Linked DNA regions of Homo sapiens: all the other regions are reported to be linked to region 1. The links are microRNA targets in miRTarBase. Many come from high-throughput screens and were not tested one by one. Region 1 holds a microRNA gene; each other region holds the end of a gene's coding sequence. Distances are between the middles of the regions.
What was found. The annotated mature microRNA hsa-miR-143-5p reads GGUGCAGUGCUGCAUCUCUGGU and lies in region 1 at 1,134-1,155, opposite strand. An mRNA with a match to its seed (bases 2 to 7 or 8) in the 3' UTR can be bound and repressed. Matches are read on the target gene's strand: a 7mer-m8 pairs with bases 2 to 8, a 7mer-A1 pairs with bases 2 to 7 and ends in A, and an 8mer does both.

Region 1 (3,345 bases):
CCCAGGTTCCATAATCACATGCAATGGGTAAAAACATGGATTTGAAGGCAGATTAGGGTACAATCTCAGCTCAGCACAATCAATATGTGACTTTAGGTGAGCTGCTTAAATAAGCCTCAGTTTTTCTCATCTGTAAAATGGGGCTATAACACCACCCACTTCCCAAGCTTTTGGGGAGGTTAAATGAGACTGTGCTTGGCTCCATGGCTCTCCTCTGCTGCTCATTGTGCTTCTGAAGCCTCTGGGAGAAGTCAGACATTTGTGACGTGCCTGGACTGGTTTCGGCAATACCCCGGAGCCAAGGTTAGAAGTACAGAGTGAAGACCCTGACTCAAAGGCCAGAATTTTTATCTTCAGGGCTGAAAGGGTTTTTAGGAATTGTTTGATCCACAAATGATGAATGAGTTTCAGCTGTGAATCAGTACTAGTGGCTTTCCAGGGCTCATTGTTGAGGATTCTGAAGCTGCATCTGAGCACTTCAAGAATGGATGCCTGGCGGGGCGTGGAGGCTCATGCCTGTAATCCCAGCACTTTGGGAGGCCGAGGCGGGCAGATCACCTGAAGTCAGGAGTTTGAGACCAGCCTGGCCAACATAGTGAAACCCCATCTCTACTAAAAATACAAAAATTAGCCAGGTGTGGTGGCGCACACCTGTAATCTCAGCTACTTGGGAGGCTGAGGCACGAGAATTGCTTGACCCTGGGAGGAGGAGGTTGCAGTGAGCTGAGATTATGCCACTGCACTCCAGCCTGGGTGATGGAGTGAGACTGTGTCTCAAAAAAAAAAGAATATATGCCTTTACTGATTAGCTGTGTCTGCCATGGGCTCAGAAAGAGAAAGCAGAGGCAGGGTGCTGGGGAAATGCTAACGCCTCATGCTAAGATGGACACACTGGGGTACACAGAGGAGTCAGGACATGCCCAGACTCGTGAAGCAGATCGTGGCACCAGGGGAACTTGTGTAGAGGAACTTCCCCAGCATCACAAGTGGCTGATAGTATGGAGTCTGGAAACACTCTGTCCTTCCTGTTATGGCCCCCCACAACCCCCCAGCACTTACCACTTCCAGGCTGATGGCTGCAGAACAACTTCTCTCTTCCTGAGCTACAGTGCTTCATCTCAGACTCCCAACTGACCAGAGATGCAGCACTGCACCTCAGGCTGGGAGACAGGGCGCTGCGCTGCTCCGCTCTGGTGGCCTGTGGCGGGACTCCAACCTGGCCAGGAGAAGGGGTGTTAGAGGGGACCTGGGCTCCACCTCTCCAGCTCTGGCCGGGAGGCTGTTGTAATTCCTCACAACTGTGTTTCCTGTCTGTGGCCTGCCATTTGAGCACCCAGGACCAAACCTTGACCTTTTTTCTCTTCTTTTCTTTGTTTCTTTCCTTTTCTTGTCAAGAACAGCTTAATTTAGAAGGAGGACATTTAGTGAGTACAATTAACAGGTTTTTAATATATTCACAAAGTTGTGCAAACAATGGCACAATATATTTTAGGTTATTTCACCATCCAAAAAAGAAGCTCCTTATCCTTAGACAACCCCTAGTCCTGGGCAGACCAGTTTCTATCTCTATAGATCTGTCTATATATTTTCTGGATATTTCAATACATGGAATTATTTAATATGTTGACCTACCTTTTGATGCCATGCCCCACCTTTATGCTTGGCGCATTCCAGCCTAACAGCATCATTCATGGTACTTAACATTTTATATCATCGAGCAATCAATTGTCTCCAACCTATCTTTCTTCTGCCACTCCTCCTCTCTTCCCAGCCATCTTCCCATAATGATTTTTCAAGATGCAAATATGCTCATATCTTACTCAAGTTTAATATCCCAAAAGGGCTCCCCATTGCCCTCAGGCTGAATTCTGAAGCCCTTCCCAAAGCCTGCGAGGGTCTGCCGCATCTAGCCCCAGTGACCTCTTCCTCTTGGGCTACAGCTCATAGATGTCCTTCCATTCTCCTAGGGAGCCCTGTGCCCACCCACTTCGGGCTCCCAGGGACTGTGCTGCTCCCCGTCACTCTCCCTGCCCATCTCTTCCTCCTGTGCTAGGTCTCTAATCAAGTGGCCACTCTGGGAAACCCTCCTTGACTTTTTTTTTTTTTTGAGACAGAGTCTCCCTCTGTCGCCCAGGCTGGAGTGCAGTGACACGATCTCGGCTCACTGCAAACTCCACCTTCCGGGTTAAAGCAATTCTCATGCCCCAGCCTCCCAAGTAGCTGGGACTACAGGCGTGCACCACCATGCCTGGCTAATTTTTGTATTTTTAGTAGAGACAGGGTTTCACCACGTTGCCCAGGCTGGTCTAGAACTCCTGACCTCAGGTGATCCACCCGCCTTGGTCTCCCAAAGTGCTGGGATTATAGGCATGAACCACAGTGCCCAGCCCCTCCTTTACTTCTTTAGCCATCAGCACCCCCTGCTTCATGTTCTCGCCCACCCGGTGCCCTCTTTCTAACCCTTTACCATGCTGGTAATGTGGTTTTCACTTACGACCACCTCCACTTGTGGACTACATGGCTCACCTGTGAAGGGAAGGGACCCTGTCAACTGTGCTCACTACTGAAATCAGGGCCAGGTGGTGTAGATGCCACATAAGCCCAGGTTGAATGGCTGAATCATAATTCCCAATCTCATTATCTCTAGTATCAGTGTTATTTGTGTGTGGGTCTGACCTGGCTAGATCTCCACTTCCTGAGGACAGTGCCTGTGTCTTGTTAATTTGGGGGGCCCTGGGTCTGACCTGTGGCTTGGTACATGATGATGGACCTAGGTAATGCCATTTGGTGGCTGATTGGATGACCATGTAGATAATTCATTTTGTTTTCTGGGCCCGGCTTGGGTGGGAACTTTCAGGTGAGCAGGCAAAGCCCCTTCTCACTCTTCCTGCCCTGCCAAGATCTCAGGGCACCCCAGAGGACCTTCTTGCATTGCTTAGTGGTCACTGTGGTGGCCTTGATGTTGGATGACATATATTTTCAGGAATGTCTGAAGGGGATGGGTAGCCTTTCTTCAGGGCTGAGAGAGAACAGAAAAAATATACCTCCTTAAAAAAACAAAAACAGAGCTGGGAGCAGTGCTCATGCCTGTAATCCTAGCACTTTGGGAGGCTCAGGCAGGAGGATCGCTTGAGCCTAGAGTTCAAGATCAGCCTGGGCAACATGGGGAGCCCTTGTCTCTAATAAAAAAAAAAAAAAAGGCTGGGAGCAGTGGCTTACACCTGTAATCCCAACCCTTTGGGAGGCCAAGGTAGGCGGATCACCTGAGGTTGGGAGTTCGAGACCAGCCCGGCCAACATGGTGAAACCCTGTCTCTACTAAAAATACAAAAATTAGCCAGGCGTG
Region 2 (3,000 bases), 140 Mb from region 1:
ATGAGAGGCTTCCTGTAAGACTTAAAGGTTAAGGAGAGCATTGGGGAGAGATTTTTTTTTTTTCTTGAAGCCAATGGCACTGGGACCTGGGCTGATGAGAGGTGCACTGCCAGTTTTCTGCCTGGCATTTTTGCTCACAGGGATGCTTTTAGCTGCCCAGAACTTTAAGGAGCTTTGACCAGGAATAATGCTCTTTCAGATTCAAGGAACAGGCAGTTTTCCATTCTAGCCTGGCCTCAACTGCTAATCAACTGTGGAACTCTGAACACATGTGCCTGAATTACTCTGCCCCTGTTTCCTCACCTGCAAAAACACTGGGGAGGGAGGGAGGTCTGAAGCTTGATCAGGGATCAGAATCACCTGGAGAACCTGTTCACTAAACAGCAGTTGTGCTGGGCCCCAGCCCCGGGGATCTCAAATTCAGGGTCCTCCTTCAGGTTGGGGCCTGAGAATTTGCATTTTTGATAAGTTCACAGGGGATGCTAAGGCTGCTCCTATGGGACCACACCTAGAAGGGACCAGGTACACACAGAGCTTCCCATAGTGGATTCTGACAATGACTCAATGCTTTTAAAAGCCTATTGTTTGGTAAGACTGGTGATATGGCTTTGGGAGAGCACAGTTCTCCTTTTGAGTTCTTTTTAGCGCAAACCCAAGTTCGGTGCACCCCGTGGGGGAATGGGAGGGACTCTGTTTATGAGAACTTGGTGGACCACCCAGCTGGGGGTGTTCACTCAGGGTAGGTGAACTAAGGTGACCTGCGGATGAGTGTAGCAGGATGTAACAGAGGAAGAACCCACGAGGCACGCCTGCTGCTCATCCTTACACATTTTACACCAAGGCCAGTTTGAGCTCACGGAAACGCTACGGCATCCGTGAAGAATGAGTTAGAGGAAAGAGAAAAGCCCTTGTAATAATTCTCTTGCTTTAATCACTGTTTTTGGAGATTTAGGTATATTAAGGCCAATGCTGAGTTGTGATTACAGGATCAAAAAATTCCCCATTGAGGCAGAATACTAAATAAGTCATGCTCTACTCACACTTCGGTGATGAAGGACGGTTATCAGCTTCGATAAGTGCCTTTTACTGGGAATGAGTCACAGTCCTGGCACAGCAGCTGTGCCCGTGCTGTGAATGTACCACGGGGCACCTGCCAGGCTCGCTCACAGTCATTGCCTCGTTTAATCACTAGCGAGTCCATAAGTTGCCAATAAGGAAAGTACTCCTAAGAGGGACTAAGAGATGTGTTCAAAGTCACACAGCCAGTAAAAAATCAGAGCCAGGATTCAAACCAGGAACTTGTGCTTCAAGTTCGAGTTCCCACGAATAAAAGGCTTCCTAAGAGATCATCTGGGTTCTCTACTTCTTACAGATGCCTGCCATGAGTTATAAAAAGAAAACAAGTTTGACCAACTGGGCTACAATTTGCAGTTTTGCTTTTAAACATTAGCTTATACACGATTGCTCTACTTTTCACTATTTGGCAAAGTATGATTTCTTTATGTTAAAAGTACCAAACAACTTGTGTTGGATTTACAAGAACAAATTCTTCAAGGCCTTCTGTCTTTAAAAATGCATGAACGTTGGCTGTGTGTCTTCTTTAGCCTTCTCAGACTTAACAGGCAGTTTGTGGGTCTTAGTACTTCTCTCAGTTAGCTCACGCTATTGTGAGACTGATTTGCATAGCTGATTCCAAATTATTCTTTTGCAGTCTATGTCTGTTAGCTCTAGCAAAACATTCTTGGAGACAGGAGCGTAGTGGACGGAGGGGGCACTGTTGCTCGCAGAGAATCTTTTTACTATTAAAGTATTTTTCCCTGAAAGCGTTCTCTAGAGATGCCCAAATTAAAATCAGACCACTAGATACATTCAACATGCTTGCCTGCTTTCCAGGGAGCTGAGTAACCAGTTATCTGCGTCACACACTGTGTCCTAATCTGAATTACATCTCAATATTGGCTTCTGGAGAGCTCTTTCTGAAACAACTGTGTCAAAAGGGAGAATGGATGGAAAACAAACCTTAATTCTGGAGCAAACCACAGGAGAAAGAAGACAGGAAAATAAAAGATACAGGCACTGTAAATCAAAGTACATAAAACTTTTAATGAATTAACTTTACAAAAGACAAATGGCATCAAAACATCAGACGAGTTTGATACAAAACTGGTCCTAGGCTGTGAGGACTAATTCTGGTGACGGATGGCGACGTGCTGCTGGCATGAGACACACGGAGCAGAGGGACGAGAGCCGTGGGTCCCAACGGGGGCCCTTGGACACCACTGGCAATGAGACAATGGGTGAGCACAGAGTCCACGTGGGGGACAGAATCAACTTATTCACGAATACTGTGTGTTTGAATATCAGATGAGCAGATGCGGTTGGCGAGCTACCATATTTTCCAGAAAAGAACATGCACCAGAAGATAATATACACCCCCTAGTTTTATTGCCTTAAGAATGTGTGTGTGTTTCACCTTTCTCCTCTGTTAGTTCTCCCAGTGCTTTTCTTCTATCACGCGCGCTCCTTTTCCCTTTTGCTTAGGAGCAAGCACAGTGCAAGTGGCAGAACGATCTGGGCACACATCAGACACCAAACGGTATGCCACTGGGTCACGAGAACGAGTCTGCAGAGGCTCCATAGGACAGACAGCACGCACATCAAAAACAAGGGACAGAAGTTGCAGTCAGAAAGTGTGTGATACCTTCCTGAAAATACAGTCTTCTTGCCAAAATGAAGGTGACTCTTCAGGATGCCACGTTGCTCTGGGAAAGGGACCTTGACATTTCTGTGTTTACAAAGTACGTCTTCAGGTCCCCCTTTCCTTTCACGTTGATTATTCCTCGACAGGTGCACGTGTATCCGAGGGTCTGCAGGACGAGGCTCGTCTCCTCGGTAACCTAGAAGGCACAGGAACACGGGAAAACGGGCTTAGTACATACATTGATACAACCCATCTGACTCAAGGATGCAGAGCTAAAAAAAGCACCATGCTCTTTGACC
Region 3 (3,000 bases), not on the chromosome of region 1:
TCATTAATACATTTGTAAGCACGATTTAGTTTATTAACTTGAACAAATCATTTAACAATTATTAGGTACTTATAGAGCAGGCCTATTTGAATTTTAGTGATTATGGCTTTTCCAGAACTTCTATACTTGAATTCTGAGGCCCCCTTTTCTGTGCTATCTCCAAACCATATTATTTTGAAATTGAGTAACTTATACTTTCCTTTTTTATTGGGCAGTTATTCAGGTTATTTATTGAATAGAACAGTTTGTTGTTGACAATCTCAGCAAAGAGTTCTCTGACAACAGAGGGGAGGAAAATAGAATGTCAATCTGAGATAGCTATGTATTTGTGAAAGTCTAACTGCAAGAAGAAGTTGATCTTGGACAAAAATGCAAATAATGCCATTATTATTAATGAGTATATACAGTGTCAAAAATCCAAGTTCTTCCATGTGTTTGGTTTATGCATTATTTCTATGAGGAGAGAGGAATGAGGGGGTTGAAATCAGAGATGGGGAGGGGAGTTACTTTGGTGTAATAACAGCCATTGAGCTTTAGCTCTTAGGAGTGTGTGCTGGTGACCCTGCAGGTCAAACTAAGTTTAGAGCAAGTGAGTCAGTTAACTTCCCAAGATGATACTGGGTTCATTCTCTCTATATGCAACAAAATACTAGGTTTTCTGAAATTCTCACAGCATTGAAAACACCATTGCAATTATTTCAGAGCTCATCATCCATTCTGGTAGGAATTATTATTAAGGGAAACAGGAAGACTTTGAGCTGCATGGACTGAGTCTCTAACTGCATCATGCCTGATGGAGAGAGAAGAGGTTACTAATGGCCCACCTACCCATGGGGGCTAGGGCCATTTATTAGCAAAACGACAACTTTAAATAACTGTGTCTCAAACAATCCATCCTTGAATAAAGGAGGGATGGCCAATGTCTACCAGTCTTTAATACAAAGGTTAAATTTTGGAAAGCTGATTACACCTGAGAACAATTAGCTAATAATTCCCCTGAGTATTTTCATGAAATCTATGTACTGGTAGTTCCTTTGGCTCAAGGTGTTCTTTATGAACAAGACAAAAATTAAATGACTATATGTAGTGTTTTGATGACTCAGTCAGTGGCATCTTTATACTTACTAAGGTTCACAATAGTTTAATTTTTCAATTATGATAGATGTATCCATTTTTCTTGAATGTTATTCAGTCTTTAATGATTGAATTATTTTTTATATAATGATTTTTTCATGTTCTCCATCTTCTCATTAGGAAGGCTTTCTAATCTCCATTTGCTGGTCTCTAGTTTGGCTCCTAATACAATACATTATGATTTCATATACTTCTTATGCCAGAGACCGAAAGTCCAAGAAGGCAAGAAATCAAGCCTTATTCCCTTGTTGTCAATGCTTTGTACTTAATAGGTTCTTAATGCAAAATTTCAGAATAAACAAAAATATGAAAAATACCTTTAGAGGCTTCAAATAATGATTATATATATTTTAATCCTTTAAAGACATTAATAGTGATTATAGTTTTGCTTTTTTTATCCTACACCTATTAAGACTCCAATTACCTCTTTCATCAACACACCGCATGCTGATATGATTGATAAAGGTAGAACTATTTTCTATTATGCATTAATTAGATTAGCAGGACTTTGCAGTGGCTTTTTATGTTCTCTGTTCAAATGAAGAGAAAAGAAGTTGGTTTGGAATTATAACTATAGGAAAGTTGTGGAGTGCACTTGGTCTTCAGCTTTGTTTTAACAAAATAACTGCTTCCTCACTCTGCTTGTGAAGGGTGGCTAATTCAAGGTTATCAGTCAAGATTTTACTGTGTAGTTTATGGAGGATAGATGACTCAAGTCTGATGACAAATATGATTCCACTGAACTGACAGCTGAGTTATCTGTAGCACATTTAGATTTCAGGTATATAAACTTGTTTAGGAGTTTGATTTTCCTTAACTATCCTAGGAGAATCGAAGGACTCCTCCCCTATTTTGTTGTCTGCTTCAGCTTGATGGAACAGTAATGCAAATTTTCCAGCCTACTTTATTCCTCAGTTTAGGGAATGAATTAAAGTTATCCTTAGAAGAGAAAATAATGTAAATAAGAATGAAATATATGTATGTGCTTACCTATGGTGTACAATACAGGAGCTTAGGGGAAAGAACTGAGAAAGTGTGAGTTAGTGATCTTTACACCTGCATTTCACAAGTGACTGAGAATGAAGCAGATAAAAGCCATATATTATTATAAAAAGGAAATATATTTATGTGAAGTAGACATCAACATTAGAGATATGTCTGTAATTAAATAGAATTTAAACAGGGTTTCAGTGGAAATTGGTCCTAATATCTTATGATCCATTCATGCGTGACTCTGCCCTGTGAAAATGTGCAGGGGGAACATTCCTGGGTGATGGAATCAGAACTGAAAAAGATATGCAGGTACACGGTGAGGACGGTTGACAACACAGCATTTTTAATCTGCATCTATAGAAAACACTTATATAAGCTCTCTAATGGAGGGATTATAGAAATACATTTGATATATAATAGTGTACTTTTGTGTACTTACTGTGAAAATAGCACATTTATTTAGAGAAGGATTTTATGCCCAAAGTTCTTGTTGATGTTTTGAAATATATCCATTTCCTTCTGTTGTAGTAACTGTTATCAAGAAAAGGAAAAGTACCAACAATTTTCCATTATTCCTCATCAAAAGTCTTCTTTGACTGATAGTTCCCAGAGTCATCTAGAATGTTCACATCAGTAAAATGTTCTAGAAAAAGTCAGAGTTTGTGTTCTGGGAAGCGTCTACATTTGCCTGCATTCATGTCTCGTGCACATGGCCTGCCGCTCGATTCTCCATGTGCCTTCCTCATAAGTACAGTGGCATATGGTGCACTCGTCAGTCTTCACTTCTCTGCCAGCAGGGATCACCGCGGTTTCTGCAAAGCAGTTTGGACCTGAAATGCAGAAAAATGTTTTATACTATATGTGTGCATAAAT
Region 4 (3,000 bases), not on the chromosome of region 1:
GACCTCCACAGCTCACTTTTGTTATTTATTGGCACAGGAGGAAGAAGGGGAAGACTGTACACTCAGTGTCTACAGGCAACTGCACAACTCCCTGGATCCGTCTGAACTGCCTGGGAAGCAGGGGCTGCCAGAGTCTGGGCGAGTACGGGCCGAGGAACGATTACGGCCAACCAGGCCCTGTGCTGAGGAGAACTGAGCCCGCTGGGTGTCTGTTGTCTGCCCTCTGCTCCTGCTTCTCAGCTCTTCCACCGTCCTGCCCCACGAAGGATCCAAGGCCAGTTAACCAGGCAAGACACAAGCCTTGGCTGGAAAACTGTGGTAGAGCCGGGCTGTGGCTCAGGTAATTTTTGCCATTTGGCCAGAGGGAATCAGAGACTACAAGCTGGACAGTCACCCAGGCCCAACCTTCCCCAATGCACGAGTCCTCTCTCTCTCCTTGTCCCTGTCCACCAAGTAGTTGGACCATTCTGGCCCCCAAACAAGGGAAGATAAAGTCCCCAGCACACAGCAGGAGTCAAAAATTCTTCTCGGCTCCTTGGTGGGTTGTTTCTGGATCCTAGGGCAGCCTCTGTCTGTGTGGTTAATGTTCTGGTTTCTCAGTCTCCTCACTATATCCACTTCACTCCTCATTTGCCCAATGGGCTCAAGTACCCCATAAGATTTACCAGCCATCAGCTCTATCTAGGGGGCTTTCATTTCTTTCCCCTTGGAGTTCTTTTCTTCAGACTTAAAGCAGAAAGGGGTCTGTGCTGCCTCTAAAGGATTATGAGACTACCCTTTAGGTTGAAGTTTGACCTGGCTCCTGGCTTACCAGTCTCCTGGAAGCAGAGCATGCAGATACTCATGCGGATACCCATTGGAATGACATCATCCCTCCCCAACCCCAGCTCTCTCTGCTCACCTTCCAAAGGCACCTGGAGGTGCAAGCCTCATGCATCTCCTTTCCTGAGCACCAGTAATGCTGCTGGCATCGCCTGCTTTCTCTCCAGTGGCTGGAGACTTCAAGCTGACTTCATTGTTTCCACCTTGGGAAAATCCCTAGGCTAAGCTGGGCCTGACCCAGCATCCTCTGCCTTCTAGGAAGTGCCCAGCAAGAGGGAAAGCAGACCCCTTTAGTCACTCCACAAGCAATAGCTCCATGAGAGGCATGGACTGTGAGACTACTCCCTCCTGTTCCTCCTTCTCCATCCCCCATGGAGGAGGCATCGCACTTTACCAAGCTGATGCATTCCTACAGAAGTGGGCCCCGGATTTCTGCAAGTCGACTATCATGATGACTTCGCTGGAGGAAAGGTGATACGTACATACGCATTGAGGGCCTCAGCTTTATATAGTTCAAAATGCAGCAAACTTTTCAGAAAGCCACGTAAATAAATTGGTTAGGTTCCTTATACCAGTCACATGGGGAAGTTGAAAAGAATTGTATATTCTTGGCAGTGCTTTTTCTTTAGCATTCTGTCAATTCAAAGAAGGGATCCTCTTTCAAAGGCTACCTTTATGAAGTAGACACTATTGCCCTCAGAATGAGAGAACATTAAACTACCAGTCTGGTAAGCTGGATTTTTTTCCCCATGGCTTTACTTCCTTGCTGTGTGACCTTGGGTGAGTCATTGTCTTCTTGGAGCCTCAGTTTCCCTGTCTGTAAAATGAGTTCTTTGAAATGGATGATCTCTAAGGGCACCAAATCTGGTATTCTAAGGTTCTCCTGTTTTCACCATCTATAATAGTATGGGATGATTTTTGCTTGTGGAAGGTATCATCCGTGTGGGTTCTTCCCTCCTGCCCTCAATTGTTTTTCTGGGCCTTGTTTTTTAGTTTCTGTATGTTTTAATCTCATGGGGATGAGCTCAGAGAAGCTCCGTGGGCCTGTTTCCCAATCTGCAAAGTGTGAAGGGATTAGATGGGATGGTCTCTGAGGCTCTTTGTGGCATCAGCCTTGCCCAGTGCCACACAGTATCTCCTGGCGTTCTAGGAGTCTAGGTATTATGGAAAGTACCCAAGTCTGTGTATCTCCTGTTCCTGTGCATCTCCTATGAATTTCCTGGCAAGAGGAAGACTCAAGACTTCCTCCAGAGGAATTTGTCTTCTCTGCCTTCACTCAGCATGGGAACCAGTGTTCATCCTGACCTTGTCTGTATCAGATTTGGCAGTGAGGAGGCTTGGGGAGCACCTACCTTACTTTCAGGGACAGGAATCTATTGCTCATACTTCTGCTTCCCAGAGTTTTGCCAATCTAAAGGCATTGTCATGTGGCCTGCCTTTCCTGTCCACATCCCCACCTCTGATGCTCAAGATGCTATTTCCAAGATCTCTTACTGCTGCTTCTCCTGGCTTACTGGCCAGAAACTAGCTCACTCAAGGCTGCCATCCTTCACTTGCAGCCTCCCTGCCATTCTCCTTCACTGGTTGGCAACCTTGAGAGTTCAAAGAAAATCAACCTCTGTGGTGGTCAACTAAAGGTATTAGGAAACTAAGTCTGTGGCTCTTCTCTGCTGATGGAAACAGAAGGGCGCCAAGCCATGCCTAAAAAGATCTCGCCAATAATTCTTGTCTTTGAGTGTTGGAGCCCTGGATTCTGGTGCTATAGCTCCTGGTGCCAAAGTCTGGATCTTTCCACATTTCAGCAGCACCAACATCTGCTGCTACTCAAAATGTCCTGTTGAAGAGGGACAGCTGTGATGCCCTTTTGCTGGGGCTGCCATCTTGAAATCTGAGTGCAATAGGATTTGCTTGTAACAGTTATTTCAGGATATTTTGTTTCTTTAATCTGCACACTTTCTAGATAGATTTTATTTTTAAGTGTCCTCAGCATTGCAGAAAATAACATTGTAATAGCAAGTAAAGGCTGGAGGCTGTTTCTCTGGGCTTCAAATGGCTGGCAAGGCTGGCTCTCAAATCCCAAAGTTGGGAGGCATGTTTCTGAAAAGCAACTGAGGTGTGACTGTTTGGACCCAGGCCTCATCATCAGGGGTCCTGGAGGAAGCCTCCAAGTAGAGGGGA

Region 2: miRTarBase lists ADCY2 as a target of hsa-miR-143-5p. The part of its 3' UTR that is shown has no 7-base or 8-base seed match.
Region 3: the mRNA of VWC2 is a reported target of hsa-miR-143-5p. Seed matches in the 3' UTR shown: 7mer-A1 at 2,383-2,389.
Region 4: miRTarBase lists LUZP1 as a target of hsa-miR-143-5p. Seed matches in the 3' UTR shown: 7mer-A1 at 2,768-2,774.

Annotation. Positions count from the first base shown.
Region 1 is chr5:149,426,754-149,430,098 of GRCh38, reverse strand. It overlaps MIR143 (microRNA 143), which reads right to left and starts at 1,181; the gene lies at 1,076-1,181. It overlaps CARMN (cardiac mesoderm enhancer-associated non-coding RNA), which reads right to left. Exons shown (of 5, transcript NR_105060.1): 4 at 1,060-1,216.
Region 2 is chr5:7,826,616-7,829,615 of GRCh38, reverse strand. It overlaps ADCY2 (adenylate cyclase 2), which reads right to left. Exons shown (of 25, transcript NM_020546.3): 25 at 1-2,897. The coding sequence ends at 2,745. Among named protein-coding and RNA genes, the nearest start is that of CFAP90, 23 kb to the left of the region's middle.
Region 3 is chr7:49,911,991-49,914,990 of GRCh38, reverse strand. It overlaps VWC2 (von Willebrand factor C domain containing 2), which reads right to left. Exons shown (of 4, transcript NM_198570.5): 4 at 1-2,957. The coding sequence ends at 2,806. It also overlaps a transcript of ZPBP not described here. Among named protein-coding and RNA genes, the nearest start is that of VWC2, 140 kb to the right of the region's middle.
Region 4 is chr1:23,086,091-23,089,090 of GRCh38, reverse strand. LUZP1 (leucine zipper protein 1) reads left to right here. Exons shown (of 4, transcript NM_001395462.2): 4 at 38-3,000. The coding sequence ends at 196. Among named protein-coding and RNA genes, the nearest start is that of MIR3115, 43 kb to the right of the region's middle.